Regions from separate parts of the Homo sapiens genome. Here region 1 is linked to region 2. The links come from fine-mapping of genetic effects on gene expression. A gene starts in region 2. The other region holds a variant in brackets. All regions are shown on one strand. Distances are between the middles of the regions.

What was found. PIP is the estimated chance that this variant, and not a neighbour inherited with it, causes the effect.
Region 1: its variant is fine-mapped to the expression of TRAF3IP3 in whole blood (INTERVAL, PIP 0.91).

What each region holds. Positions count from the first base shown.
Region 1 is chr1:209,808,637-209,823,645 of GRCh38, forward strand. No RefSeq gene overlaps it. Among named protein-coding and RNA genes, the nearest start is that of IRF6, 10 kb to the left of the region's middle. RefSeq lists enhancers at 6,923-7,092, 7,069-7,843. The variant A/T (reference allele first, on the strand shown) is at 7,111.
Region 2 is chr1:209,748,943-209,763,951 of GRCh38, forward strand. It overlaps TRAF3IP3 (TRAF3 interacting protein 3), which reads left to right and starts at 7,111. Exons shown (of 17, transcript NM_025228.4): 1 at 7,111-7,367; 2 at 10,092-10,192; 3 at 11,040-11,442; 4 at 13,573-13,720; 5 at 13,871-13,928; 6 at 14,126-14,150; 7 at 14,421-14,450; 8 at 14,550-14,645. The coding sequence starts at 11,098. RefSeq lists enhancers at 3,041-3,150, 6,834-6,993, 7,274-7,683.

The DNA.
Region 1 (15,009 bases), 60 kb after region 2:
ACTTAGCCAGTTTTTACCCACACAGTATTTTAAATATCAGGAGGTATCACATAAACATCAAAATTCTCAGCATCTCTTAAAGAGTCAAGTGCCCTGGATGCTCTACCAGCAGTTCTACCTGGCAACAGTTGCCCATTTAGAGGGAGTCTACACGTTACAGCCAATACAAACTCACTCTATTGAGCTCACTAATTTACTTTAATTGCCTGACCCTGTAGGCATCTGATTGCAACTTCTAGTCTAAATTCTCCCTTTTCATAGATGAGAAAACTGCGGCCCAGCGAGGTCAAGTGATTTACTCAAGGTCACATGGCATATTAGCCACAAACCAAGACTAGAACACAAACCCGGGGCTCTATCCACTTGGACCCCTGCTCAGCTCCGCAGCCAAAGTCTATTCTGACCTGTTCTGCACTGGCTGTTAACGATTTAAAAAAAAAAATCGCCAGGTGCAATCGCTCACACCTGTAATCCCAGCACTTTGAGAGGCTGAGGCGGGCAGATCACCTGAGGTCAGGAGCTGGAGACCGGACCGACCAATATGGTCAACTCTACTAAAAATACAAAATTAGCCAGGCTTGGTGGCGCATGCCTGTAATCCCAGCTACTCGGGAGGCTGAGGCAGGAGAATTGCCTGAACCCAGGAAGTGGAGGTTGCGGTGAGCCGAGATTGCACAATTGCACTCCAGCCTGAGCAACAAGAGGGAAACTCCATCTCAAAAAAAAAAAAAAAAAAAATCACCCATGGATCTAGGTACTGTTGATATTGTTGATATTGCCATAAACAAAACCAAGTCCCTACTCTCATGTCACTCAACTGAAGAATTAATGAAAGGGGGTAAAGCAGGTGGAATTAAGGTAGAGATCAGGAGGAACTCCCCGGCTCTGCAGGCAACAAGCCCTGACAATAGGCCACCCTGATGTCTTCTATTCTGATACACGCCTCATCTGCTTGATCTGGGGAATAAGAACATCTTGTGAGTCTTTCCACAAGCTCTTGAGGAATCAGTTCTTCTGTATTCTCAAAAGAGCCTCTTCAGGATTCAGTCATTCCCAACATGCCCTGGGCCTGCAATGCTCCCATCATTTTGCCCTCCATTGATAATCAGGTGCGGCATTGCTGACTCACTAGTGAGTCTGAGTTTCAGGTAGTGGGACGTACATTTCAGCACGGGGGCCCTGATTCACAGCCACAGGGAATGAGGGAATTCCCCTCTCCTGTTCCCAGTCAGCTCTCATTTGGTAGGAAAGAGTTTCTTTTTCCACCCAGAGACTTTAAACTCTACAATATCAGACATGTGACAATAAAACCATGAACCCAAATCCCACTCTCTTCTTGGCAGAGCAGAAAGCGTGGCAACTGGGACTCCTCCCAAAGGCTCCATACAGTGGAGAGTTTAGTGTTACTGGAGTTGGTGATAGCAAAGAAGCTGTGCACCTTTGGTGGAGTTGCTAAAGAGTCAGGTAGGGACATTGCACTAAACAATCCAATTCTGTGCTTTCAAAGGAAATCAGACTCCAACCTTCCTTCTGGAAGGCATTCTGGAGCCCATCAGGTCTACCCTCACTTTTCTCTTGGCCCTGGCTTATCTCTGTCTCCATCCAAGTATCTTAAAGCATCAGGGCCACAGGTGATCCTAACACATTGCCTAAGCCACAGCCTAAACTGAATGCACTCTGGTTGTTGCACTCTATAATGGCCTCCAAATTCTAGAATCACCAAGATGGCAGGAAGCATAAAAGAATCTCACTTTCCAATCCAAGCAATGGCACAGACTTTGGCTTTGGACTCTAGAAGAATTCTCCACCAAAGTGTTCAGAACATCTTCTGAGTCTTTCCATAGTTAGAAGACCCTTTTTATCCTTGAAGCAAGCTGAGCACTGGAAAGTGTTCTCAAAGAAGCAGTTTTTTTTATTCCAAACTTGGATCTCTATGGGAGGCGAAGGAGGAAAAGCAAAGCCCAGGAAATTATTTGGAAGTAAGCTCCCCCTTGGGGCCCTCCCTTCATTCTTCTGCCCATTCATTCCAAAGCTTGAGGGTCCACTTCCCATCTTCCCCAGCATGGAGAGCTTTCTCATTGGCTCTGCAGACAAAAGAGCTGAAGAAACTACAACCACCATGAATGTGAGAGTTCAGAGTTCTGATTCAAAGCTGCTTCCCCATTGAGACAAAACAGTGGCCGGATTTTGGCTTCATGGTCAGCACCAAACAACCTATCCTGTGACTCTATGCTGCTTTGAAATGAGATAGTGGATATGGACGCTCTCTGAAACAGGTGGAGTGCTGTGCAGATGGAGCGACCATCACTGCTGTTATCTGCTCTTTGTTTCCTTTGTGTAGATAATTCTCTCCAGGCTTCAGTCAAGCCCTAAGGGCAGCAAGGTGCAGGCCAGACAGGAACTAGCAGAGTGTTAGGCTCAGTTTGAGCTACAGAGCACTGGACAATGTGTCGATTTCAGAAAATGAAGACTCCAGGAGTACAGAATCTTCGGGGAGCAGTGTGGCAAGAAGCTGGATTCCTGTTCAATATGAGTGATTAACCAAATGTGCTTTTCTCTTCTCCCACCCCCCACCACCCCAGATCACCTCAGGTGATCAATGACAGTGAAGGAATTTTTTTAAAACATATTAATCTATAAGGTTAAGAGATGACAAAAAGCATGAGAGTCGAGATAAGAATGGATGAGAGAGCTCAACAAAAATAATAGGAGACAAAATATTATTTCAACAAAAATAGGATGTGTGTGGGGGCTGATGATTTGGTTATAAAGCTTTCAGTCCTATTTGGTTAAATCTTAAAGCAGATTTATATACTATTTAACGAAAATATTATCATTACTTGTTTTCAAGAAAGAAGAAAGAGCACTTGGGGAGTCAGGAGACCTGGGTGTCAGACTATTCTCTGGCACTCCATGACAGCAGAGCTGCATCAGAAAAACTAACTGTGATTTGGAATGAGTCAAAATTTGTCTCCAGTTTCCCGTCTCTCATTTCCTAACTGTCCAGGCAGTCTGAGCCTCAGTTTACTCACCTCCTAAATGAGAATGCTGCCTATTTCATGGGATTGACAATAGGATTCAATGAAATAAATAAAACAATACCACATCTTAGAAAATATCATTCTTCTCTATTGCTGCATCCCCCTCCCCAACTCTAGGCAAGGATGTGGCACAGTTCAGGGCACCTGGTATTCACTTAATTAAAACCTGCAGTGTTACTGTGTATTTGTTCTTGGGACAGCGAGGACACAAAGTATCTCTTCTCTGCTGATTGGATTAAGAGCAAGGCCCAAGTGTGACTCTCAGAGCCTAGTGAAGAATTCCCTTGAGGAGATATGGCTAAGGGACAGGGAAGACAGGGTAGAAACCAGAAGTTCTTTGACCAAGTAGCAGCCCCACCCTTCACCCCTCCACTGTCAGAATGTTCTCTTCATGTAGTCCAATGCTCAGCCTCAACCTATACTGGCCTCCTATCCAATTACCCTGGCCTTCTGTGGAAAAAGGTAAAGATGGTTTCCATGGGGAGTTCCACTCTCTTGAGTGGCTCTGGACTGGCCAGGGAAGGCCTAAGGACTACCTGCCACACTAATTTCTCCACATTGCCTAAAATTCCAGTTGCATAACATTCAAAAAGGTGATTCTATCTGGTCCCTGCCCCAGACACTGACAGCCTAAACCCCACCTCAATTTCTACAGCTTGAATCTCAGCTTTGTCCAAGCTAAGCTTGGGCCTAAGAAGTGGCTAGATGCTACAGAGGGTTAGCCCAGTCAAAGAAGAAAGGGGAGATGTATATATAAATAAGAGATTTTCAATAACAATCTCATGTAACCCCTGACCAGGAGAGCCCCAAAGTCAGGAGCAAATAGGATTTTGGTTTTTCTAAGACAGACCAAGACCAGGGCCCTGGGTCTACCTGACATGAGACACAAACATCATTCCTTCATTCACCCTTCAGTAAATCTTTATTGAGCACTATACACCAGAAGAATCCCCACCCTTTTGAAACATATTGTCTCCTGTTCCTATGAAAGCCTTCTGTTTAAACTTTCACATATGTGCCCTTCTGCTATAGTGACTACCTCCCAACTCCCAGCTTTCAGCCCCACTCCAATCTATTCTACAGCCCTCTGTGAGCTCCAGTCCCATCACTGTCCTGCTCAAAAACATTCTGTGATTTCCTAATGCTTACTGAATCAAGAAAGCTTATTCCCTCATCCAACAAATGCTTATTGTTTATCTACTATGTGCCAAATTTCTGTTCTAGGTGCTGGGGACACAGCAGTGAGCAAGACAGACAAAAATTTCTGCCCTCGTGGTGCTTATATTCTAGCTGGGGAGACAGGCAATAAACAAGTAAAGTATGTAAGTCCATGGCAAGTTCTAAGAAGGACAAGGGGGCAACTGAAAAAGATTAGGAGGGGGTGGAGTGGATCCAAATTTTACGTGGACTAACCAGGGAGAAGATGACATTTGAGTAGAGCGCTAAGAATGTGATGGAGTCAAGTGGGTATCAGAGGGAAGATTATTCCAGAAAGAGGGCCCGGCAAGTAAAAAGCCCCAGGGCAGGAATATACTTGCCCCACTAAAGGACCAGCAGGGAGGCCAGTGTGGCTGGGGCAAGGGGAGAGTTGGAGGTGGGGCATATGAGGTCTGAGAGGTAACAACTTTTACTCTGAGAGTAAGCGGGAGTCACTGGAGGCTTTTGAGCAGAGGAGTGACGTAGGTAACTTGTTTTGCACAATTAATCTGGCTGCTGTGCTTAAGCTAGAAGGTAGAAAAAGGTCAGGCAGAGAGAGACCAGTTAGAAGGCCCCTCTCTGGCCCTAGCCTACTTTTCCAACCATATCTTCTACCATTTTGCTACCCTTCAACCATAATAAATTTGTCTTCCTTGAATATGCTTTGCATCTGCTGATCTACCATCTTTAATGAAGTTGCCTCCATTTGGAATATTAATAACAACAGCTGGAACAATAGCTACTGCTTAATAAGCATTAATGACCATTCAAACACTTTTCATGGTTATCTAAGTTCATTTACAGACATCTTTTTTAATGTTCATATTTTGTTCCCATTTATTGAGAAAGCTGAGGCTTTTTACAAATTGTGACCAGCTGGAGGGCCCCGTGCCCAATCAAACATAGGATGTAGAGCCATTGATGGCCTTTTGGTCTCAAGTGGACCATTTCCATCTTTGAGGATCTTCACATGACCCTCTGAGTATTTTCTCAGCAGAAGTCTTCACAAAAGGAGAGGGGAATGTTTAAGATGATCCTTAAAGTTCAGTAACCATTTTCTAGATAGAAAAGGAGAACCAAAAAAAGCATTTCAGGCAAAGAGGATAATATTATAATAGTTCAGCAGTACCTCATGGGATAGTCAGGAAACTGCAGTTTGCTGAAGTGTAGCATTTGCAGGGATCGATTAGGCAGGAAACAGAACTGGAAGGAAGGCCTTGAATGTGACATCAAAGAGTTGGACTTTCTCCTCTTTACAGTGAGGGGCATTGAAAAGTTTTGGGTAAAAAAACAAAAATATTGTTTAGGTTGGGCAAGGTAAGAGTGTCTAGAAATGGTGAGGACTGTGGCTACCTGGAAAGCGTGCTTTCTTTCTAAAAGAAGCAGCCACTAAGCTCTGGCTGACGGCTGCCGGACAGAAATACAGGTCCAATGTTGCCACTGGGAAATCTAGATTTTTTATGTAAAATCTACTAATTTTTTATACATTTGCATTTTTTAACTTTTAATTACATGAGCCATATAAAACACCCCACAGGAGCTGCCATTTGGGGGCTTCTTTCCTGGAGTATGAATTAGCTCCAAGAGGACAGAGGCTTTGTCTGTGCTACTGTGTTCTCAGGGCCTCTCACACACTAGGTGTTCAACGTATCTTTGCTAAATGCATGTGTGTGGGTTAGTGATAGCATTTCTATTTTATTCTTGAGGAAACTAAGGCCCATAAAGGATAATCCCCAGGATCACATGAGAAGTGGTCAAGCTCAAGTTCAAGTCCAAATCCCTGAACTTCGAAATAGGCAAGTGGATTTGCAAGAGACATAGAATAAGAGTAGGAAGAGTGCTTCATCAGACCCTTCTATCGCCCCCTATCCCAGGGCTGCTCCCACATGTTACCAATGTCCTGTGCATGACTCCACCCGGTTTTCAATCCCCTGGGAAACTTTTGATCCTTCTGAGACTGTTTTACCCCTCTTATTTTGTTCAGGCCCAAGAATCAGAGACAAGGCTGCCTACACACCACCTGTCCCTCCCCAGCACAATGACATCTGCATACTATTGAGCTGCTGCTAGCAGTAGCAGTTTCTCCTGGGCCTTTCGAATCCAAAGAAGGACCCATCAAGACTACGCTGGCCAGGTGCCTTGCCAGCTTAATTCCCTGGGGTAGCCAGGAAGCTTCAAAGCTCTTGTCTGCTCTAGTTCACTATTTACAAAACACTATGAGAAGAGCTGGGCACAGCTGCTGCAGAATAGAAATGGAAGGTGGTAGGGAAACAGTAGACCTAGCAAAGGGGTATTTGAGGAAATACAGTACCAGCACTGGAGGCTTCTAAAATAAGAGTCAGTCCTTTGAGTGGAAATGGCCAAAGTAAATAAATAAATAAATGTTTTTAAAAGTAAAATAAGAGTCATAATTTCTACTAAGTCCTACTCAGTTGAAATAAAATAGATACTTCCTTTCTTCCTCCCTTCCTTTCTCTCTTCCTCTAGTTAGCCAGTTACTCAATAAACATTTAATAAAGAACTTCAGTGTTCCACATTCTTCATAACTGCCAGGTAATGATTTAAATGGTGCCCATGAGCTAAGTGTATGATACTTAATTCATGCACTTCTGATTTATTAAGAAAGGAGAAGGAGGGAAGGAAACACTAGCATGTTTTACCAACTATGGCTATTCACAGGGGGAATGTTGTTATTGTTCTTGTTCCCCAATACAAATCTAAGAGTAATTTACCTATGTTAGCTTTTCTGGAATTGTTCCAGAATCTTGCGCTTTGAAGGAAAAGTTGTGGCTGCGTATTCTGCCCCTCTCTGTTTGGAAATCCCCTGCACAGCTTTGCCAGCTACTCAGCTTGGTTCATCAGGGGATTTTTT[A/T]AAAATTTAGTTTTTAAGAGTTTTATCCAAGGTCTCAAAGCTGGTAAATGGTGAGTAGGAAGTTGATTCTGCCCGATCTGTCTGACTCCATGCCCTTTCTATTAGGTCATGAAGGGGAACCTGAGGATTGGAGCTTTGGAATGTTAATCTTACCCAAAGGCCTGAAGTAATACCCCAGAATGTGAACATGTGTGACCATCTGCCTGTCCTGGGGGTGGGAAGAAGGCAGCATGCTCTATCCTTGACCCTGATTGAGCCCAGGGGCTGAATCTGGAGCTTTGGGGCCTGGGAACCTCTCTACCTGCGTCAATGTCTGGAGGCCCTGAGAGTTTCGCTCAGGCTCAGAGCAGGCATCGCAACCTCCCAGTTACTATTCTGTGCTGTGGCAAGTGCCAGCTTGTCCTCTCTTCCCCACCCAGCCCGGGAAACCGGCAGCATTTCTAGTTCAGGCCCAGACCCGTCCTGGCAGCCTGGATTCCACTGCCTAGGCAGGAAGCTCATCTCAGCCCAGTGACCTTTTCTCTCTGTTTTTTGTCACAGAGGAATTTCCATGCCAGCAGTATGGGGCAATGGGGGTGGGTGGCCAAAGGTTTCCCCCTTAAGCCACAAGAGCCATGGAGTGGAGGTAAGCTAAGCAAACAGAGGAGGAAGGATGGGAGGGAAGGATCAGGAAGATTTAGAGAGTCCATTCCTCAGGCTGCTTCATCCTCAAATTCCAAGGTAAATAAAGGTGTTGGGAAGGATGCACTATATGTCCAGCTGCCCAGCCCTGAAGATCCTCCCCCTAGAGAACTGAGACAGGAGTTTTCTCACATTCCCACATGCAGGAGGGAAAGAGGCTGGGCCTGGGCAGGTCTAGAGAGTTCTGTTCCCCTGCCCCAGGGGAACACGCCTAGGCTTGCTGACCTCTCAGGTAGGAGTCTGTCAGGTTGGAAGCTGGGCCTCTCATTGTGTGTGTGTGTGTGTGTGTGTGTGTGAGAGAGAGAGACACGTGTGTGTGTGTGTGTGTGTGAGAGAGAGAGACACGTGTGTGTGTGTGTGTGTGTGAGAGAGAGAGACACGTGTGTGTGTGTGTGTGTGTGTGTGTGTGTGTGTGTGTGTGTGTGTGTATTGGGGGAGAGAAGCATATAGGATAGGGTGGCCAGATTTAGCAAATAAAAATACAAGATGCCCAGTTAAATGTGAATTTCAGATAAACAATGAATACATGAATACACTAAACAATTATTTGTTGTTTATCTGAAATTCACATTTAACTGGGGATCCTTGATTTTACTGGCAATCCCAATAAAGGGAGTCGGGGCTTGAGGGAACTGGACTGAGGCTGGCACGCCCATTCCTTTGCCTCTCTGATTTCAGTGAGGTAGGGCTAATTCCCAGACATATACCCCTGCCTTGACCTGCTCCTAACCTTGAAGCCAGAGAATCCCTTAGACATTGGCTTTTCAGGGCATACACGGGCCCCAACCCACATAGCTAGGGCTCCTTTGACTTCAGTTCTCAAACTCCAGAGACTTTCATGACAACTGTTAATGCTCCATCCTGGAGCCCCTTTGAAGATGAAAAGCTCTCCTGAGAAGTGGAGTGCTCTGTTGTTGTAATTAACATAATTAAAAGCAATTTGTCTCATAGTCCCATAGGAAACTGGGGGACTTCCCTTCTTGTATGAAATCCCCACCACACTCTCCCAGGAGATGGACACCACTTCTAACCCAAGCCTAGCCCCAGTCCCTGTTCCCACCCCATTCTGACTTAGATATAGAGGTTGTTTCATATTTTTTGTTTGTTTCACCTTTCAGATGATTCTTCATCAAAACAGGGCACCCAGATCTCCAGACACAGGACCCCATCTCTCCTGTTTGTGTCTGCTTTCCTGGGTTGAAAACACCTCGTGAATGGTAAATCCCAAAGCTTTACCATTTCAACCTTAGCTCTGCACCCAGTCAGAAAGGATGTCCGCTGCTGTGGTCTTACCTCTCATCCCACATGCCCTGACCACTAGAAGCAAATGCTTCCTTGATTCCAAGAGTCAGGCTGTGGCTGTGCAGAGTGACCAGGCAAAGAACATGTAAGCATTACTCTGCTAAAGCAGCTTGGTCATGCAATGGTAACCAGGGTAGGAAAGTTCATGTCCAGAAGCCCTGCACAGAGTCTGTTGTCTTAATTATTTCTAGGAGTGCATCCTTCTGCATTCCCCAAGGAGATGATAAACTCTTCCACAGAAAGAGCTGCAGCATTTCATTCCCCAGTGGCCCAGCATAGAGAAGATGTTGTGTTACTAATTGGGTTGGGCCAAATTAATCTATTCCTGATAGGCCAAAGAAGCATCTCTGTCTCTTTCTGGGTTTCCAGGGCTCTTACCAGACAGCTCTGGGGTTTCCTGGCATACCTACAATGTGATTAGAATTTGGCCTGTTGTGATTGTCAAAATGGGCCAGGCATGGTGGCTTATGCCTGTAATCCCAGCACTTTGGGAGGCCGAGGCAGGTGGATCACTTGAGGTCAGGAGTTCGAGACCAGCCTGACCAACATGGTGAAACCCTGTCTCTACTAAAAATACAAAATTAGCCAGGCACGGTGTCGGGTGCCTGTAATCCCAGCTACTTGGGAGGCTGAGGCAGGAGAATTGCTTGAACTCAGGAGGCAGAGATTGCAGTGAGCCAAGATCATGCCACCACACTCCAGCCTAGGCAACACAGTGAGACTCTCTCTCTCAAAAAAAAAAAAATCTAGACTATGATCATGGCAAGTTAGCAAGAGGCTATAAAATTTATCTGTCACTCAGAATCTATTTTTTAATACCTTTATGTTGGTTGTGCTTTAGATTCTCTTGGAAAATCATGAGAGGGAAGAGCCCTAGAGTGCAGAGGAAAGCACTCTGAGGGCTTGGTCTTTAAAGTTTGCTCCTCTCCCCGCAACATACACACACACACACATCCATGCATCCACACACACGCACACCTTCATCTGGGAGCAGCAGAGCTAGCTCTTCCCCACCCATTTTCTCTTTCATTCAGTTTAACTTAATAGGAACTGAGGCTTAGACAGCAAATAGTGCTCAATAACAATAATCATAGCCCGAATTGAGCATAACTGACCTGGCCTCTTTGAGATTCAGGGTTACCAGAACATGTCATTAAGGGATTCTCTGACAGAGGCTCAATGACAGACAGTGGTGAAAAGCCCTCTGAAATAGCTTCACCATGAGAGAGGAGACTCTGGACGGGTGACAGAGGGCCTAGAACCCATCAGACGGGGAGTTGGTTCTGGAAACAGCATGCAGCTGACACTGACACCTCCTTCCAACCCATTCACCTGACCCTATGGGACTGCTAGGGAAATGGCTAGCACTTGTGAACTGAAGAGTTTGGACCCTAAAGAGCTGTGCCATTGACAGCTAGTCCTGCATGGCAGACATGAAGCAGAGTATCACAAGTTACAGGGACCCGGGAAAGAAGAAAGGGGAGAATGGGGGAGAATGTCTGCTTTTGCCTCCTGGAACACAGCCAGATTTCAACAGCAACTACTCAAGATGAGGGTAATCAGGACTGACCCTTTGGACTGGGTTAGCATTTTTGAGAGACTTGGCCAAACCAGGGGAAAGAATGGACTTCCTACTAATCTAACCCTATAGAAGCTCAGCCTCACTGAGAATCCCACATTAAAAGAAACTCAGTCCTTTTCATTAAAGACTGAAACACAGAGACAACTTTTAAGAATGATTATTCTTAAAATAGCATATCCTACTTAGGAAATAAACCTTAACTATCTTTTCTTGGGAAAAAAAGTCTAGAGTCTTCACTTTTTAAATCAGGAATACAGAATTCTCAGGATTTCCTTTCCTTTAATGATTTTTAAAGTGTTTTTGTTTCTTGAAGAGCCAACATGGGTTTGAGGGTATATTCCTGTGTGGTTGAGAAAAAAATTTCTCTTTGTATTCCAGCAGACAATGTCCAGACCTGGCCCAGGCTGCCCTCATCTCTCTTAGCACTAGAACCTGTCCTGTCCCAAATACATTCACCGTCATCTACCTTAGCCATCAAAGGAATTACAGTTACAGTTACTTTAGGGCTGGAGAACAAAATTATCCAACATTTATCTGGCTCCCAAATCCCTAATTGTGTCTTCAGATAGAGCTAGAGGAGCTATTAGTTAGCAGAATAAGGGCAATACTATTCCACTGCATTCAACACTGAATTACAACCAGTTTTGCAATCTGCCTTTGTGGAATTTCCAGTGCAAGAATTTATAATAAACTCATGAAAGGACTCTTTATTTTTTTTTTTTTGAGGTGGAGTCTCACTCTGTTGCCCAGGCTGGAGTGCAGTGGTGTGACCGTGGCTCACTGCAACTTCTGCCTCCTGGGTTCAAGTGATTCTCCTGCCTCAGCCTCCTGAGTAGCTGGGATTGGGATTACAGGCACACACCACCACATCTGGCTAATTTTTGTATTTTTAGTAGAGACAGGGTTTTGCCATGTTGGCCAGGTTGGTCTTGAACTCCTGACCTTAAGTGATCTGCCTGCCTCAGCCTCCCAAAGTGCTGGGATTACAGGCGTGAGCCACTGCACCCAGCTGAAAGAACATTTTTAGTTATAAATTTTATTTCTAAAAATTTTAGTTCTAGCCAGAATGAATGCTTAACTAAGAAAGTAAGAAGAAACAAAAAAGTACAAGAAAATGATAGAAAATCTTGTTCATGAGAAGTGGGTATGGTTGTTAAAGTAAATATGAGAAAAGCTGGTGTTTTAGGGGCTTCACTGTCTAAAGAAGAAAAGCTGCCCCCAAAATGGAAGGTAAATAACTGCCCAAATAAAACATTAAAATCGCTGAAGCCTACCACACCAGATGTAATAGTCTCAGGGGTTAAGGCTGGGATGTCAAAGTTACACCAGGGAGTGATTTGGTAACAGCCAAAAGGCAGAGAACATTGATTTGGGCTAATAGGCAATTATAGACTCAGTTTCATTCAAGATTGTAATTCCTAACTGAATTTTTTTAAAAAGCAGGACCACAATCTGTACCCTTGGGATTTTTTACCCTTATTTCTCCCCCTCCAAAAATAAACAAATTCTTGTAAGCCATCACATAAATTAATCAACGGTGCTCAGAAGAGTCGTGATTTTCTTGGGCAAAATGGCACATAACAGGCAAAAAAGAAAAAAAATGCGTCATATGTAAGTCAGGCCACCTTAGGCTGGACTAATGACTCCCTCCTCTCTGTTCCCTCAGTGATGGCTCACACTTTCATGAGAGAATTTATCACACTGTGATGTTGTGGAGAATCACTGGCTTCTATGACTGCTCCCTTTCTCTGGACTGTGAGCTCCCTGAGGCCAGAGACTTTGTTTCATTCTTTCACATAAATTCCCTTGGCACTTAATATATCCCCGGAGTGCAGTGGTACAGAATCAACGATTACTCAGCAAACAAACACTCCCCAGGTTCTGTACTGCACCCAGTCCCCTGTATGAGGTGTAAAAGTCATTTAGCACTAATGCGTCACTAGGATTTGAATCCAGATCGATGTGAGTCCAGCATCCTCAGTCTTAACTCTTTTGTAAACCTGCCTTTCCTAAGAAGGATCAGTCCATAAATGGGAGACAACACCAGCTTTCCTCTTCCCCCAGTGGCTGCTCTGCCTTAGTCACCTTGCTGGTTCTTCTTCATCTGTCCTGTGTCTTAAATTCGCAGCTACCCCAGGGCTCAGTTTTCAGGCTTCTTCTCTATATTTATACTAAGTAATCTCATTCAGTCCCAATCATACACTGACCACTCTCAGATATGCTTGGTCATCCTGGCAGCCTGGACCTCTCTCCTGAACTCCAGATGTGCCACATGCCTGGACCTTTCCACTTAGATGTCTAAGGGGAATCTATCTATAGCTTAATATGTGAATTGAATTATCTGGACATCGGCTGGGCATGGTGGCTCATGCCTATAATCCCAGCACTTTGGGAGACCAAGGTGGGTAGATCACTTGAGGTCAGGAGTTCGAGACCAACCTGGCCAACATGGCGAAATCCATCTCTACTAAAAATACAAATAAAAAAAAAATTAGCCAGGTGTGGTGGTGCACGCCTGTAATCCCAGCTACTCGGGAGGCTGGGATGGGAAAAGCATTGGAACCAGAGAGGCAGAGGCTGCAGTGAGCTGAGATCACATGACTGCACTCCAGCCTGGGCAATAGAGTGAGACCCTGTTTCAAAAAAATAAATAAATAAATAATAAGAATTATCTGGGCACTTGTTGGGCAGATGGATGCAGTGTTTCTGAGCCCGCAGGGATAAAGGGAGAACATAAGAAGTTAAGAGCTGTGGAGAGCTGGACCCTTGGGTTCACCCATGTGATTCCATCATATTATAACCATATTCGCATAGTGACCAGCATGGATAGTGTGGATTTCATGGATGTTTCTGGTAAACTGAACTCATTACAGTCTCAAAATATGATAATTATACCAGGAGAGACTTGAGATCCTGGTTTCAATAAACGCTGAGAAGTAGGAGGAAGCACTTGGTAAACATATGAAAAAGTCTTCAAAGTCGCCCTGGCTGGAATGCAGTGGCACAATCTTGGCTCACTGCAACCTCCACCTCCCAGGTTCAAGCGATTTTCGTGCCTCAGCCTCCCAAGTAGCTCGGACTACAGGCACATGCCACCACGCCCAGCTAATTTTTGTATTTTTAGTAGAGATGGGGTTTCACCATGTTGGCCAGGCTGGTCTTGAACTCCTGATCTCAATTAATCCACCCACCTTGGCCTCCCAAAGTGCTAGGATTGCAGGCATGAGCCACAGCGCCCAGCTGAAAAAGTCTCCAAAGTCATGGTGGGCAGCATCCAAAGCAAACTAATTGCTCAGGTAAGGCATCAGAAAGGAAGGTTTAATAGCCTTGGCACCCACACCAGACATCCTTGTGATTTCTCTAAACTCCAAATCTGATCACATAACTTCCTTGCTTGAAATCCCTTATCAGCTCGTCACCTTTTATGGGATTGGATGTCAACTTCTCCGCAAGGCATCCAAGGCCTTTCATGGACTGGCTCCTCACCTGCCTGCTCTCTAACCCCTCCTGTCCTGCCCGTCCACCTCAGTGACGTGGACCACTGCAGTTATCCAAACACGTCTCTATACTTTTGTTCATGCTATTGCCTCTACCTGGAATTCTCTCTTCCTATTTATTCACCCAGGAAACCCTGACTCAGCCCATCCTCTGTGCAGTTCCCCACAAACTTTTCCCTCTTCTCCACGGCAGAATGAGTTTCTTTATCCTCTGGGTTCCTTTAACCCTTTTGTACGTCTTTTAGCCCATGACAATGTCATTCTTTGTTAATTGCTTTGTCTCTCAACTAGACTCTGAGGTCTTCAAGGGAAAAGTCTGATGTTTGAGCTTTTTAAATCCTTCATGCCCAGTGTCATTCTTGGAACACAGTAACTGCTTAGAAAATGCTTGATAAAATGAATGAATGTATGAACAGCTGAGCCCTTGCCGCAACAGACGAAAAATAGTATGTAGTTATACCAACGTCCCACTAGAGGGAGCAATGCAAAACTTGATGCCCTCTAACAGCATTTAAGGCTTGTTCTCAACTAAAGTAATACGATAAAATATTTTCCATTTTAAGCTAAACCTAATGTAAATCAATCCCTGATACACCTGATGAAACATATTTATAAATGTTCACTATATTCCAGGTTCTGAGTTTCACAGTGGATACTTCTTATGGGTACAGATGAATGGAAAGGGCAGGGGACATATGTACTCATATTTTGTATTTTTATGTTATGTAGCGTGCATCACAAAGCTTTGCTCTTCGCAGACATAATCTCACTTCTAAAGTCTGCTCCACCTAGAAGCTTATTGCTCCACGTACAATAAATTCTGTGGAATCCGATGAC
Region 2 (15,009 bases):
CTTCCTGGAAATCTTTGCTCTCAGAACTAACCTACTTCTTCACTAAACTTCTCCAGCAAACCCACTCCAAGGTTTTATCCTAAAGAAAGTATTTTAAAAGAAGAAAAACAAATAAATGCATGCATGAAGATACCCATTGGCAGCATTATCTGTAAAAGCTAAAAATTAGAAATGACAAAAATCTCCATATAATTAAATAAAATTAAATTCCTCTATATAATTTCCACATGAATAAAATTCCTAATTATATCATGCAAACTAAAACGAGTTTCACTGCAACATTGGAATATTTTTATTTTTACTTTATTGTGTTACCAAACACTTCCATAGTATTTACTATATTTAGGAACTATTCTACTGAATATTAACTAATTTAAATCATCAAAAGAGCCCTATGAGACAGGTGCTATTGTGATTCTCATTATTAGTCAGAACACATTTGTTTTGGTCTAACTTAAAATGGAATTTAAATGACACACAGTGAGAAACACTACGAGCCACTTCAAATGTTTTTCTTCCATGGAGAACAGTGCAAGACACATTCTTTAAAAAACTTAGTTAAATGAGTTTTAAAACTTACAAGTTTAGATCAGACAAAATGCATTGACTCACTGAAACTACTCCATTTTCACACAGCCACAGATCTGCAAGTCCATTTCATCATAACCATTAATAAATCACAAGACAGATGCTCCAAATTGCAGGTGTTGCTAATAGTGATAGCTCACATTTCTTAATGCTTTACAAGTATTATATCTGGTAATCCTATAACAATTCTGTAAAGTAGATATTATCGGTTATAGCCATTTTACAGAGGAGGGAACTGAGATGCAAAGACCTCAAACGTAGTGTTCATGCACTCTAAGCTCAAACAGATAGTAAGGGGCAAAGCCAGGCTTCACACCCAGGCAGTCTGACTTCTGGTGTCCCTGCCCATCTAGCCCCAGGCTGCCACTCAGGACAGCTTCAGAGTGAGCAACAGTCTTGAAGTATAGATGACAGATGTGATAGATAAAGTAATCCTGTTACAAAGTTAAACATAATCACAGCTCTGAATTATTACAATTACAGAAAATTATTATAACATATTAATTTTTATTATGTATATTAAGTTGTATTTGCATTGTATTTGCCAGTGGCTAATTATTATCCTGAGCAATGCTGGGTCACGTGGCTACTGGTTAATGATAAGGAAATTACTAAACACGTTGTGGTACACTAATATTATGAAAGACCATGACGATGTGAAAGCTAAAAAAATGGAAAAAATGTAAAAGCAAAAAATATTTATAATATAGTATTAAGCGAAAAAACAAACACACAATTCATATAATTACATATTACAAAAATGTAGATTTCACTATGCTTAAAATATTATTAAAAAGAAATGCATATTATCAAAAACTAGAAGGTAGTGTGAAAAATATGAAACTAATTTGTCTTTGGGTAGTAGGTTAAGATAATTATTTTTCTATTTTAAAAATCTTTTAGTAATATTATATTAAAATTTGTATAAATCTGAAAAAAAAAAAAAGAAAATCCGAATGCTTTCCAACTCATTTCTCTGTCCATCTGCCTTTAGTTTTCTAAGCAAACCCTAAAGTTTCTCTCTGCAGGCGGGGGCGAGGGCGTGTGCAGGGAGTGCTGATGGCAATCTAATATGTGAGCACTTTTGGTGAAATCAGTTTGGTTCAGTGTTACAGCATCAATTTAATATTCTTTGTTATGGATGATAAATCATACTGAGTATAAAACAGATTCTAAAGGTTTGTGTAGAAATGTATAAAATGTATAGAAAAGTCTCTGGAAGATATCTCAGTTTGGAATGTGAAGGCATTTGTGAAATAATTAGGATAGTTTAACTGAGGCTGTGCCAAGAGATGACAATTTAACTAGGAAGGAAAATTGTCAGTTTCAGAAAGAGGATCACACTATTAAATGACCTAATTTTGTTAGACGGCCAACATCCCCAATATCGGAGTATTCATGAGTACAGTTACTAGTGCTGAGGCTCTCAGAATTCTTAGCTAAAGACATTGATCATGGCTCTGACTGCCTAGGCTATGTGAAAAAACATGACGTACAAAAAGTAAGTAGAAGTATATTTTAATCAACAGAAACCTCATATTTGTTATTTCTGTTGAATGATAATTTTTGGAAACTCAGTAATTTACGTAAGAATATCTTTTAAATAAAGAATGTGGGCCAGTCACGGTGGCTCACACCTGTAATCCCAGTACTTTGGGAGGCCGAGGCAAGTGGATCACTTGAGGTCAGGAGTTTGAGACCAGCCTGGCCAACATGGCAAAACCCCGTCTCTACTTTAAAAAATACAAAAATTAGCCAGCATGGTGGCGTGTGCCTATAATCCCAGCTACTCGGGAGGCTGAGGTGGGAGAATCACTTGAACCCAGAGGCAGAGGTTGCAGTGAGCCAAGATCGTGCCACTGCACTCCAGCCTGGGCAACAGAGCAAGACTCCATCTCAAAAAAGAATGTGATTTTTTAGCCACAAACTAGGAGTCCTATTTATTGGAAAACTCACACATACACTAGGGAGAGGAGGGTGGTGCTTCGGCTGAGCTCTAAAAAGCAGTAATTTTTCATTTATAAAAGGGCATTTTATGAGTAGAAGACAAGTCATTATGATATTTAACTCAGGAACAGCCCTATTTCATATTCTGGCAGGAGTCAAGGGTACAGAACCTCAAATGAAGGATAAAGAAGAGAAATGAAAGCTCTCTGAAGATTAACTTGTGGTTTGTCCTTTCCGTCCAAATAGAGATGGGTGCCTGGGAGGCCCCCCTTTTTCTGTTCTACATTACTCTTTCCTTTTCTGTTTCCTAATATACATACACTCCTACCTCTATACCTACCCCACCTTCACCCCCAAGCCTGAGGCTGCAGCCTGTCAAGGCCCTTCAATGTCACAGCCAGTGAGACCACCTTTCTTATGAGCCTACAACAAAAAGTAACTTGTCCCTTGCTCAATGCTGGACCCACAAGAACGGATCCACAGTTATTTGAGCCTTATGGTTAGGCCTTTCAGATTCTTAGAATCTAAACAACAGATAAATCTCTTGCTAATATTGAAAGTCTCTTACAGCATAAATTTGAGGTTTCATTACACGAAAAGGCTCTCTACCAACAATGATGATACAAAGCAAGCAAAGACAAGAGGAGGACTTAGAACTCTGTCCTGCCACAAATGTACAGTCATAACTCGACAGAGCAGCAACCTTGCAAACGTAGGAGTCAAGGAAATACTTGTCTTCCTCCTGGTGAGTTTAGACTGTATCATCTCTGAGAATGAATATTTGTCTTTGGGATGTTTGTGTGGACATCTGAGTAAACAGTTACCAGCTAGACACTTGGAAAACTAAGGAGGAGAGTCTGCAAGTCACCTGATAAGGAGAACTTGAACTTGAATGCGAACAGACTTAAGTATGCCTGCCCTGAGCTGTTCTGCAAAATTTGGAGTGCCAAGGCCGCTGTGGACTATCCTATTAAGAGTGTCTGCAGCACTATTCTAGAATGAATAACTTAGACTTGAGGAATGCGGTGCTGAAGAAACCTTGTCAGGAGTGTAGGGAAGGATTCTAAGGCAAGAACAACTCTTATGAATGAGGTTGCCATTTCCCAGAAGATAGGTAGGAGTCACCCTGTAGAGTGGAAAGAGGAGTGGGATTAGAACTGGTAACACCCATGAGGGGACCCCCATAAAGTGTTTAACTTCATGGTGGCTCATGCCTGTAATCCTAGTACTTTGGGAGGCTAAGGCAGGTGGATCACTTAAGGTCAGGAGTTCGAGACCAGCCGGGCCAACATTGCAAAACCCCGTCTCTACTAAAAATACAAAAAATTAGCCAGACGTGGTGGTGCATGCCTATAATCCCAGCTACTCCAGAGGCTGAGGCACCCGGGAGGCAGAGGTTGCAGTGAGCTGAGATCATGCCACTGCACTCCAGCTTGGGCAACAGAGCGAAACTCCATCTCAAGAAAAAAAAAATTTTTTTAACTCCTTAGTGCTGTCTCTTGGAGTATGGGAGAAGTCATATTAGCATATAGTTTAGTTACCCCAACTGTACAATAAAATCTGATAATCTTACACATGCTTGTGTGGTATTGTGAAGCAACCAGGCTATAAAGGAAAGGGTAGCTTACCCCATACTCATCGCCTCATGGGGGACTACACAGGGCCCAGCATCTATCAAGGAAACTGTTTCAGAATATGACCATCAAAAAAGGGAGCCGTTGTTCCCATTGAACCTGGAAATGATGAGGAGAAGCAAAGGATACTGGCCACTAAAAGCCTGGTGCCCAGCTCAAGAGCAGCCTGAATTAAACCCTCTATTGGAGGCCAGCTGATGATTACACTACAAATCTCTACTTGAGCTTAATTTGGTAAATTCATTTTCTTAAATCCATTTTATCTAGATTTTAAAAATCATTAGCATAGTTACACAAATGACTCTCTATAATTAATTTCCACCGTATCGTGGCTACTTTCCATGTATCATTCCTAAACTTTTATAATGTCTTTTCTCTTTTTTAAATTGATTTGGCTCGCTGATATTTTATTTTATTGATTTTGTTTTCTATTTGTATGTCTACCATTCCTCCCCCTGCCAGATGCACACACAAAACTGAATTTTTTTTATCAATTTTAAACAGGATTCTAACTTATTATATATTCTCCTTTTATCATTTCAAAATTCTCACCTCCTTTTTTTCTGATCATTTTTTAGCAATTCATTTGAAAATAAATGAATAGGAAATTTATTTTTAATCTTCTTGATTTAGGTAATGAAAATGTTTAAAGCTAGGAATTTTCCTTGCATTCTGCTTGGCCATACCTCACAGATTTTCCTCATAATGTTGCCACTATCACCGTTTTCAATGCATTCTTAATTGCAGATTTGAAATTCCCTCTATCTTTTCAGAGTAAATGGGAAGAATTTTTTTCCAAGAAGTTAAAGTGTTTCTTTCTTCCATCTTTTGTTATTTATTTCAATTGTATTGTACTGTGGTCAGAAAATCCTGCCATAATAGATCAACTTTTCAAAACATATACTGAGGTTTACTTTTTGATCCATATGGTCAATTTTTTTAATGTCTCGTGGGCATTTGAAAATAAGGTATATTTTCTATTCTCAAAGTTCTGTGTGTGTGTGTGTGTCTTTTTCAATATAGATAGATAGGTATGACAACCTTATTAATTGTTTTGTTCTCAGAACACAATGTTAAGGGCTCAAACCTACTGTCAAGCAAACCTGGGTCCAACACTTTCTGTGTGATCTTGAGCATATCATTGACCACTCTAAATCCCAGTTATCATGGGATTAGTATCCCAATGACTGCGGACTTTGTAGACATTTCTTTCTGATGTTTAATGGAGTCCAAATAGTAGGTCTCTATAGGAACTCCTATTAAAATCTCCTGTCTTTCTTTACGCTCTAATGCCCTGAACTCCCAGAATCTTCTCACTCTTCTATGCCAATAAAAATTCTCTGGCCAGGCGTGGTGGCTCATGCCTGTGATCGCAGCACTTTGGGAGGCCGAGGCAGGTGGATCACCTGAGGTCAGTAGTTTGAGTCCAGCCTGACTAACATGGTTGAAACCCCATTTCTACTAAATACAAAAAATTATCCAGGCATGGTGGCGTATGCCTGTAATCCCAGCTACTCAGGAGGCTGAGGCAGGAGAATTGCTTGAACCTGGGAGGCGGAGGTTGCAGTGAACCGAGATCGCGCAATTGCACTCCAGCTTAGGCAACAAGAGTGAAACTCCGTCTCACTCTGTCGCCCAGGCTAGAGTGCAGTGGCACATTCTTGGCTCACTGCAACCTCTGCCTCCCAGGTTCAAGCGATTCTTGTGCCTCAGCCTCCCAAGTAGCTGGGTTTACAGGCACATGCCATGACATCCGGCTAATTTTTTATATTTTTGGTAGAGATGGGGTTTCACCATGTTGGCCAGGCTAGTCTTGAACTCTTGACCTCAAGTGATCCACCCACCTGGACCTCCCAAAGTGCTGGGATTACAGGTGTGAGCCACTGTGCCCGGCCAAAATTCTCTTTTTCTGACATCTTGGGCTCCCCAAGCCCTCTGTCCTCTACTCATTCCCATCTCTATGTGTCAAGCTCCAGACACAGGGCCTTGAGCTGTTGTCTCTCATCCTGAGTAAATGCCACTTGTCTTCAGTCCTAGTGCTTGAGAATCCATCCTCTGCTTTTCCCTGCCGATTCCTTGTCCTTTTTCTCCTCAAAGAACAGAGAAAGAAGCAGAAGCAGAGAAAATGGTGACAAACTCTCCACATGTTAATAAATGTTATCACAGCTATTTTTAAGTCTCATTACCTGCCTCACATGTGTCAAACCTTAGAATTCCAAAGAGCCACATACATCACCCAACTACCACAGTGAGTAGCATCCAGACAAGGTGAATTTTACAAGGTTACAAAGCTGCTCAGTTAACTTGTCCCAATCCAGTTTCCTCTCCACTATTTTAGCCTGAACTTCTTGGGAATTTCCTGGCTGCATCATTTGTGATGGCTTCATCTTAATGCATGCAAATCAGTTCCCTTTAGTTTTTCCCTAAATTTCCTAGTCCGGTTGACCAGATAAAAAAATGTGTAGAAGACTCTGCCTTCTATTCCTTCCTTCATCCCCCAGCTACCCACCTTTACACTCCCTCCTCATTGCTCCAGAAAGGAGCAAATCCAGAGTTGGTCTCATTCCAGAATCTGAGAAAGACACCACCTACTTCAGAAGAGCAGAAACTCTTTACAACACCAGGATTGGGAAGAGGTGGCTAAAGAAAAAGGAAAATCCTTACACAAAGAACTACCTGATACACATGAAAGCCTACACTGAGAACATCTCATCTAGGTCTTACCACCAAAAAGGCATTTTTTTCCCTCTCATAGAAACCACAAAGGTCTGAATCTGACCCAGAGGACTATCCTTTTCTAATCATGGAAAGGAATCTTGACTTGAAACTGTCCAAGAGCTCCGACCAATCCAGTAGCAAGAGAAAGGGTGGCCGGGGTGCCTACTGATGGGAGGAGCTCCTGAGCCCAGCCCTGGAGGCCTCAGAGTTCAGGGGCCCACTTAGATGATACCAGAGAGCAAGAGAGAGGAACTGGGGTTTGCGAACCTTGTGGCTTTGTCTGTTTCCTGTTTCAGCAAGGCTGCTGTGCAAAAAGAAAGACGGTACCAAGAAGGGACGTGTTAATGGGGCCCAGACCTATGGATTGAAAGCGTGTGCTTTACCCATCTGCTGTCTTGCTCCATCTGAGACCAGAGCCAAGATCTGCCCAGGACTGGAATGCTTTCCCGAGTGGCTTGAGTTGGAGCCTGGGACTAGGAGGTAACTGAGAAGGAGGATGCTTTTGTGTCCAGGTTTGGGAACTCCAACTTCGGGGTAGGGCAGAAGATGCTCTACCATCCCAGCTCCCCTGGGTGGAGAGTGGGTGGCATAGTTTAAGGGTGTCAGGGGTTTGGGTAACCAAGAAAGTATCCTGTATTGGTTTCCTGTGGCGCTAGCCATGGCACAGGGTACAGCTTGCACCACTCCTCTGTTCCAGTAGATTAGATTACATTAGATTAGGAGTGAGTCAAACGACTTAGAGTTCAGGCTACCCAGTGATATGGGCATGAATTAAATGACCTTTTACAGTTTTCTTCAAAGCAGGGATCCCTGAACACAAGACTGCCTTCCCAGCAGCTTAAGCGCAGGCCCCTCTCCCCTCAGTTCACACTGAGAGCTCTGGGCCAGGAAGGCCAACCCATGCAGGAAGCCATTCATTGTCTCCATTACAAACATGGCCAGGAAGTAAAAGCGAGACTCAGAAAGGCATGTCAAGCCACAGTCAGGTGAGGAGCCATGCCCTGTTCTCTCTCTGCAGCCTGAGAGACCAGGCTGAGCCTTCCCAGCCAGTAAACCTTCTTCCTCCAAGCTCTAAGTGAGCCCAGTCATGCTGCCAGGGGGGAACCTGAGAGATGCCAGAAAGCCTGGGCAGTGGCCAAGTGATCTTTCTTTGAACCCTACAGGGACCAGTTCCCTTTTCTTTAGCAGCCTACCCCTGTCAGCCGTCCCACATACCTTCTTGTTTTCAAGCAAGTCAGTAGGGTCCAGATATCCCAGAAACCTGGGTAGGGTTCTATGCAGCATGCTGCACCAAATCCTAGCAGGTGTGGTAGCCAAGGCATCTGGGAACACTCCCCTCTCTAAGGAGCCATTTCCACTGCAGCTCCTTTCTTGGGTAAGAAGGCTCCATGTCTGCCCCAAGGAAGCAGAGAGCAGAGCAGCTGTGTGTTTCAGTGGACTAAGGTTGGTGGCCTGGGTGGAGAGCCCAGAGAGACCTCATCTCAGGCACTGTCTTCTCCCCCACAGCCCTTTCCTCTTCGCGGCAAGAAGGTAGGAGGATTCTCAATGTTCTGCCTCCACTACAAAACCTGTGGGGAAGCTGAGCCAAACAGGGAGGGGACCTCACACCTTATGTGTGACACAGGCAGACCCCATCTCTTCCTTACCTTTCGGCTTGGTGTAATTGGGATGGCAATTATGTCCAGACCACAGAGAAGCCTTTCTCCTTATAGCCCAAACCCAGAGGTCAGAAGTAAATGTGACTTCAGCCTGGGGCCAGCATCCCCTCAATCTGGTAAACAATATACTCTGTCAAAGAGAGAGAGGGTTGAGAGGATGAGAGAAGGCATTCTTGGTCCTAGAAGTGCTAGTTTAGCTTGGAGCCTTTGTCTTACAGCACCAAGTCTTCAATATCCAACATCGGCATAACAAGGATAATATTCGCAATTACTTTTGCACCAACCTAATAGGAATACTTTATGTCTTTATTATTAAAAGGTAACATTTATTGTGTGCTCCATGCCAGGTGCATGGCCTGCATTTTGTCATTTAATCCTTATAACCTACAAGGCAGGTCCTAGCCCCATTTTATAAATGAGGAGACTGGGGCTTAGAGATGTTTAATAGCTTATCTAAAAACACACACAGGTTGTAGGTGACAGAGCCAGGACATGAGTCCACGCAGTGTGACTCCAAGAGCCAGGGTTCTCCACTGCAATCCATGGCAGAATAGCCAGGGGCTGTGGCTCAGGGATGCTGTGAGTGTAGGTTCTAGACATGGAGTTCACATGCACATAATCCTGCGTCTCCTCCATTCAGTCATTTATAACAATAGACATGGGTCTCTCAGACCCTTTCTTTTAAGTCTTTAAATAAAGAAAGTGGCAGGGAAGAAGTCAAGGGACCACCCCCTATGCCCACTCCCACCCTTATCCGAGAAGAAGAAGTAAGGAAAAACAAAGAAGAGAGCCATTCAGAATGGGTATGTAGAGGACAAACATTAATAACCTCACATTTCTGCTTGGAATCAATGCTGCCTGACACCAGAGTATGCCCCTCCAACCCTCAAGAGTCAGGCATTTGAGTGTCCAGGGCTTGACCACACAAAACTCCTCTCAGGGAAGAAGACTGCCCCACCCATGACCCTGGGGAATGAGTGGTAGGATCAGAGAGAAAACAAGAATCCTGCAGAGAATTCCAGACTGAGCCAGAGTAGCGAAGTCCCAGTAAAGGGGCAGAGAGTCTGCTACCTGTTGAGTCTGTTTGGCCTATAAATAAACCCCAAGGGGTTAGAGCTAGCAAATGCCTGCTAGTTGGTGAAGCTGAGATACCCTCCTCCCAGGGTGGTGGGTAATGAGGTCGTGGGAGGAAGAGAAGCAGCAGCAGCTGTGAGGGGGAGTCCCTCTTCCTTCATCAGTCCCTGGTCTGACTCCAGTGATCAGAGGAGGCAGGACACAGAATTTCCAACGCTCAGGATCCAGCTCATCCAAATCCAGCCCAACTCAGCAAAGTGACCAGAGGGTTCTAGGAGGATAAACTACAGAAGGTAGGTGGGGAAGAGTAGGAAAGAGAAAGGCACAGAGAAGGAAAAGGGGATTCAGGTCTAGGTGCTATGTGAATATCAGGTAAGGCCATGCAGAGGGTCATCCTGTGGCCCCTACACCAAGCCTGGCTCCCTGGAAACTTCTGATTACTGTCTTTGTTTTGTTTCTTTTCTGTTTGCAGCAGCCTTATTGAGGTACAATTCATGTGCTTGTGGGTTTGGATGGCACAATCTGTGTCTGGGCTAAGGAAAGCAGACTTGGCACCAACATTAACCCTGACAGGTTGGTAATCCTAAAGAAATGGAACCCTCAGCCCCAACAGTATTGGAGCCAGATGCTCTGAAATGGGTTTTGGCCAGCACTAGGCATGTGGCAGATGCTCAGTCAATATTGATTGGACTTGATCTGCACCTGAGAGACACAGCCCAGTCCTGAGCTTGGAGTGGGGGGCCCATGGACCATTGTCAGGACAGCAGGTTGGAGGAATTAGGGTAGGGTTTCCCTCCTAAACCATGCCAGGTCCAGGCTCACAAGCTCGTTGCTAAAAGTCAAGAAGAGAGCAGTGGGTGCTGGTCACAGGACTGGTCACCACCTGAGGGGGTGTGGTTAGCCCTCCAGATCCTTGAGAAGTGTCACTCAACTATGTTAGTGACAGCTTGGACCAAGAGACCAGTAAAGATACTGACTTTCCTTTTCAACTGGGGGATAAGAGGGCAGATTGGCTCAACTTAGCTGCTTCTCTAGAAGTCTGGAAAATGAACACACACCTGCCATCCAAGAGGCTATAAGCTCATTATGATTTTAATCAATTATTTCTCATGTTCCCCTGACTCAGAGGCATGGTAAGATGTTCAGTCAAGGAGTAAGTGGCAGCCATAGAGACCCTTTTACTTTACAAAGGGGAAACATCGGCTAGAGAAAAGCAGGAATTCACTTTTATAAGACTGTATTAGTTCATTAGAGACTGAGCCCAAGAGTCCTGACTCCCACTTTGATACCACCATGTCCTCAGTTTTCAACCCACATGGATGGAACTCTGTGCTATTTCTGCCCCCTGGTCTAGGGAGATAGTCATTTTTCTGCCCATCTTCTGACCCCTCCCCTTCTCCTCCCTCTTGGCATTTGGCAGATCCAGGCATCTATTCCAGGAACTGGAAGCCAAGCGCAACAGGTGCTTGGAGGTCATCATGATCAGCCCAGACCCCAGGCCCTCCCCTGGCTTGGCCCGGTGGGCTGAGAGCTATGAGGCCAAGTGTGAGCGCAGGCAAGAGATCCGTGAAAGCCGCCGCTGCCGTCCCAATGTGACCACTTGCCGCCAGGTGGGGAAGACGCTGAGGATCCAACAGAGAGAGCAGCTCCAGAGAGCTCGACTGCAGCAGTTCTTCAGGAGGAGGAACCTGGAGCTAGAGGAGAAGGGCAAAGCGCAGCATCCCCAGGCCAGGGAGCAAGGGCCCTCCAGGCGGCCAGGACAGGTGACTGTCCTCAAGGAACCCTTGTCTTGTGCCAGAAGGATTTCTTCTCCCAGAGAGCAGGTGGGCCGTGTCAAGGGACATACTGCTGTGTGCTCTGGGACCCTCTCTGGACAAGGAGGGTGGGTGGGCTCAAGGTCACTAAAAAGTGACCTAAATCAAGTCCTTCTTCCTCAGTCATATAGTAAAGTTGCCAAGAGCTACTTATAGTAAAGTTGCCAACAGCTACTTATTCAGAGATTTTTGCTGTTGTGTTTTCGTTTGTTTAGCTCTTTTTGTTCTGCACTTGACTTATAAGAGAGAAAAAATAATTTTTAAAAACAATTTCAGGCTGGGCATGTTGGCTTATACCTGTAATCCCAGTACTTTGGGAGGCCAAGGCAGGAGGATCACTTGAGGCCAGGAGTTCGAGACCAGCCTTTTGATAGAGACAAGACCCTGTCTCTATCAAAAACTTTACAAACTAACCAGGCATGGTGGTGCACACCTGTAGTCCTAACTAATCAGGAGGCAAAGATGGGAGGATTACTTGAACCCAGGAGTTTGAAGCTGCAATAAGCTATGATCACACCATTGCACTCCAGCCTGGGCAAGAGAGGGAGACCCTATCTCTAAAAAACTTAAAAATAAAATAAATAAAAATAATTCCAAAGCTAATGCCTATATCAGTTCAAATTTAGGCAATATACACATGTCTTCTACAGCTATCTTACAGCATTCATTCATCCATCAGTCATCAAATATTTACTGAAAGCTTATTATATGCCAAGCACACAGGCCAGTCTTCTTGACACACACACAGACATATCTGTCCTCTTTTCTTCTGCAAGGCTGTTGTGCCCACTCTTCTCACTTCCTCTTGTGTCATTCCAATTCTATTAAATCACTTGACTATAGCCTCATCTGGTCCAGGAAGCTTTCCCTGGCTTCTCCAGGCCACCTCTGCTGTCTATGGGCCTTGTGAGGTTAAAATCTTCTAAGATTGTGTAACCCTTAGAGGGCCCATTAGTCTGGCCTGGAAAGGAACAATGTTGGCAAAAACCAGGGTATGCTGAGATGACCTTGGCCAGCAAACCATCTTCCTACTGAAGTTGTGAGCATGTTGACAGCAGGGATGTGTCCACTATGTTCCATGGTAATGCTTGGCATTGTTCCCTACCCAGAGTGGGTACTCTATCAGGGCTTCTTAACTAGTGGATCTGTTATGCTCAATAGGAGATGCTGTTCAGAGAAATGATCCTAGAGCCCAGTTGCAAAAGAAAAGGAACTGTATACTAAAGCAAAAAACCTTCCCACAACTCCCCACTTTACCTAGTCTTCACACAAAACCTCAATGATTTTCTAGCTGTTACTAAGAGAAAGGAGGCTTTCCTTTGAATATGGAAGGAACCTTATGGATTATCTATTCCAAACTCCTCACTACACAGACAGAAGACTGAGACCTAGAAAAGATGGGATCTGAACCCAGATCCCCTCACTCCCCACTCAGACCAGTTCTCTTTCCACATCACCATGCTGGCTATGTAAGTGGCCATAACCAAACAAGGTAGAGAGAGAAAAAAAAACAACAACTAGAGATTCTAGAGAGAAAACCTGGAGAAAAGTACAGCTCCACATATGCCTGGCCTGAGGAGGACCATTTCTGCCAGTCAGGACAAGGATATCAGGAGCAGGAGAAGCCTGTGTGGCTCTGAAAGCTTGAGTGGGCTACTTTGGTTTTGTGGATCTGAAACATTGTCTTCGTCCTGTAATGAATTACCACAGACTGGGTGGCTTAAATAACAGAAATTTATTTCTTACAATTCTGGAGTCTGGAGTTCTAAACCCATGGATTCTGCAGATCTGGTGTCTGATGAGAGCACTCTTCCCACTATGCAGATGGCCTTCTTCTCATTGTGTCCTCACAAGGCAGAGAGCAGAGAGAGAAAGCAAGCTCTCTCGTGTCTCTTCTAATAATGGCACTAATCCCATTCATGAGGGCTACCTGCTCTGACCTAATTATTTCTCAAAGTCTCCACCTCCTAATACTATCACATTGGGAGATAGGATTTCAACACACAGATTTGGGCGGGGGGACAATAAACACTCAGTCCATAACAAACATGATGGTTAGTTCTTCCTTCCGAAATCATCAGGAGAGTCTTTCAAGAGGCTCCAGGCAGTGGTTTTCAGCATTCCCCACTTGCCTTCCAGGTGACAGGCACCAGCTCTGAAGTCTTTCCAGCCCAGCATCCTCCTCCCTCAGGCATCTGCAGGGATCTGTCTGACCACCTCTCCTCACAGGCTGGGGGCCTTCCTCCACAGGACACTCCCATCAAGAAGCCACCCAAACACCACCGTGGTAAGAGCAGAGCCTCCCTCACTCCACAGGGCCTGCAGAGAATCCTGAGACAACTGTCCCAGCTCACTGGCAATGGAGAGTCCCTGTCCCTCCCCACTTCCCTCACTTCCTCCCTGTAAGTTCTAAATCAACTTATCCTCCATCTCTCAGGTACTCAGACAAAGGCAGAAGGACCAACAATTAAGAACGATGCCAGTCAGCAAACCAAGTGAGTTCCTGACCCTAACCCTCTCACATCCCATCCATTCCTCTCTAGAGAGAACACAATGAATTTCCATGTCCGCCTTAATTAAGAAAGAGGAAGCCCTTCCCCACCCTACTGGCTCTTCAGAAGGAATCAACCCACTGCCTCCTGACTTGATTCTTTGGTCCATTATCATTATTTTTAATTTCTTCTCTTTCCAGTTACGGAGTTGCAGTTCTGGATAAGGTAAGCACATATTCACTTTGAAGGGGTCAAATCAGAAAGTATTAAGCTCTGACATTCTGGAATTCCATGATAAACTTGGCTGGGATGGAGGGGCATCTTCTTCCTGGATGGCAAGGGGGTACTGAGCATAGACATGGGGACTAAAGGGACCCTGTCAGAGCCAAAGCAGAAGAGGTTTGCTCTACACAAGCCAGCCCAGGCTCTGGTTCTATATCCCAGGGTTTCAGGGGACTTACAGACATTTTGAATACCCTTGTTCTTTCTCTCCAGGAAATCATCCAGCTTTCTGATTACCTCAAAGTAAGTGGCATGTGACCCCTCCCCTCAGTTCCTCCATCCACTTACCCCCGATCCTCCAGGTTAATCTTACCCTCTTGCACTTTGTGCCCGCACCCCCAGGAGGCCCTACAAAGGGAGCTGGTCCTAAAACAGAAAATGGTGATTCTCCAAGACCTACTGTCCACTCTGATTCAGGCCTCTGACAGCTCTTGGAAGGTAAGGGAATGAAATTCTTTTTGAACAAAGCTTGGGCTTCTATGTGTTCCCATCTCATTTTTCTTTCCACATCATCACAGTAAGAGAAGGGGTTTTCTCACTACTGAAAAGTAAGCTGGGAAGAGGCAGGAGATGAGGGGGATGGTGCTCAGACCTAGAAGTCAAACAGGTCACAATAAATATATGGGTCATCACCTGAGGGTCATGGTGCTACATATCCAAGGAAGACCCAGAAACAAAAGTGGCAAGAATTCCCATTTTTTAATTTGTTGGAAGGAATGAAGGAAGATCCCAATATAGTTTACATTACTAAATATGCTAAATGTCAAATATTTTCATATGGGATTCCCACTGATATTTATCG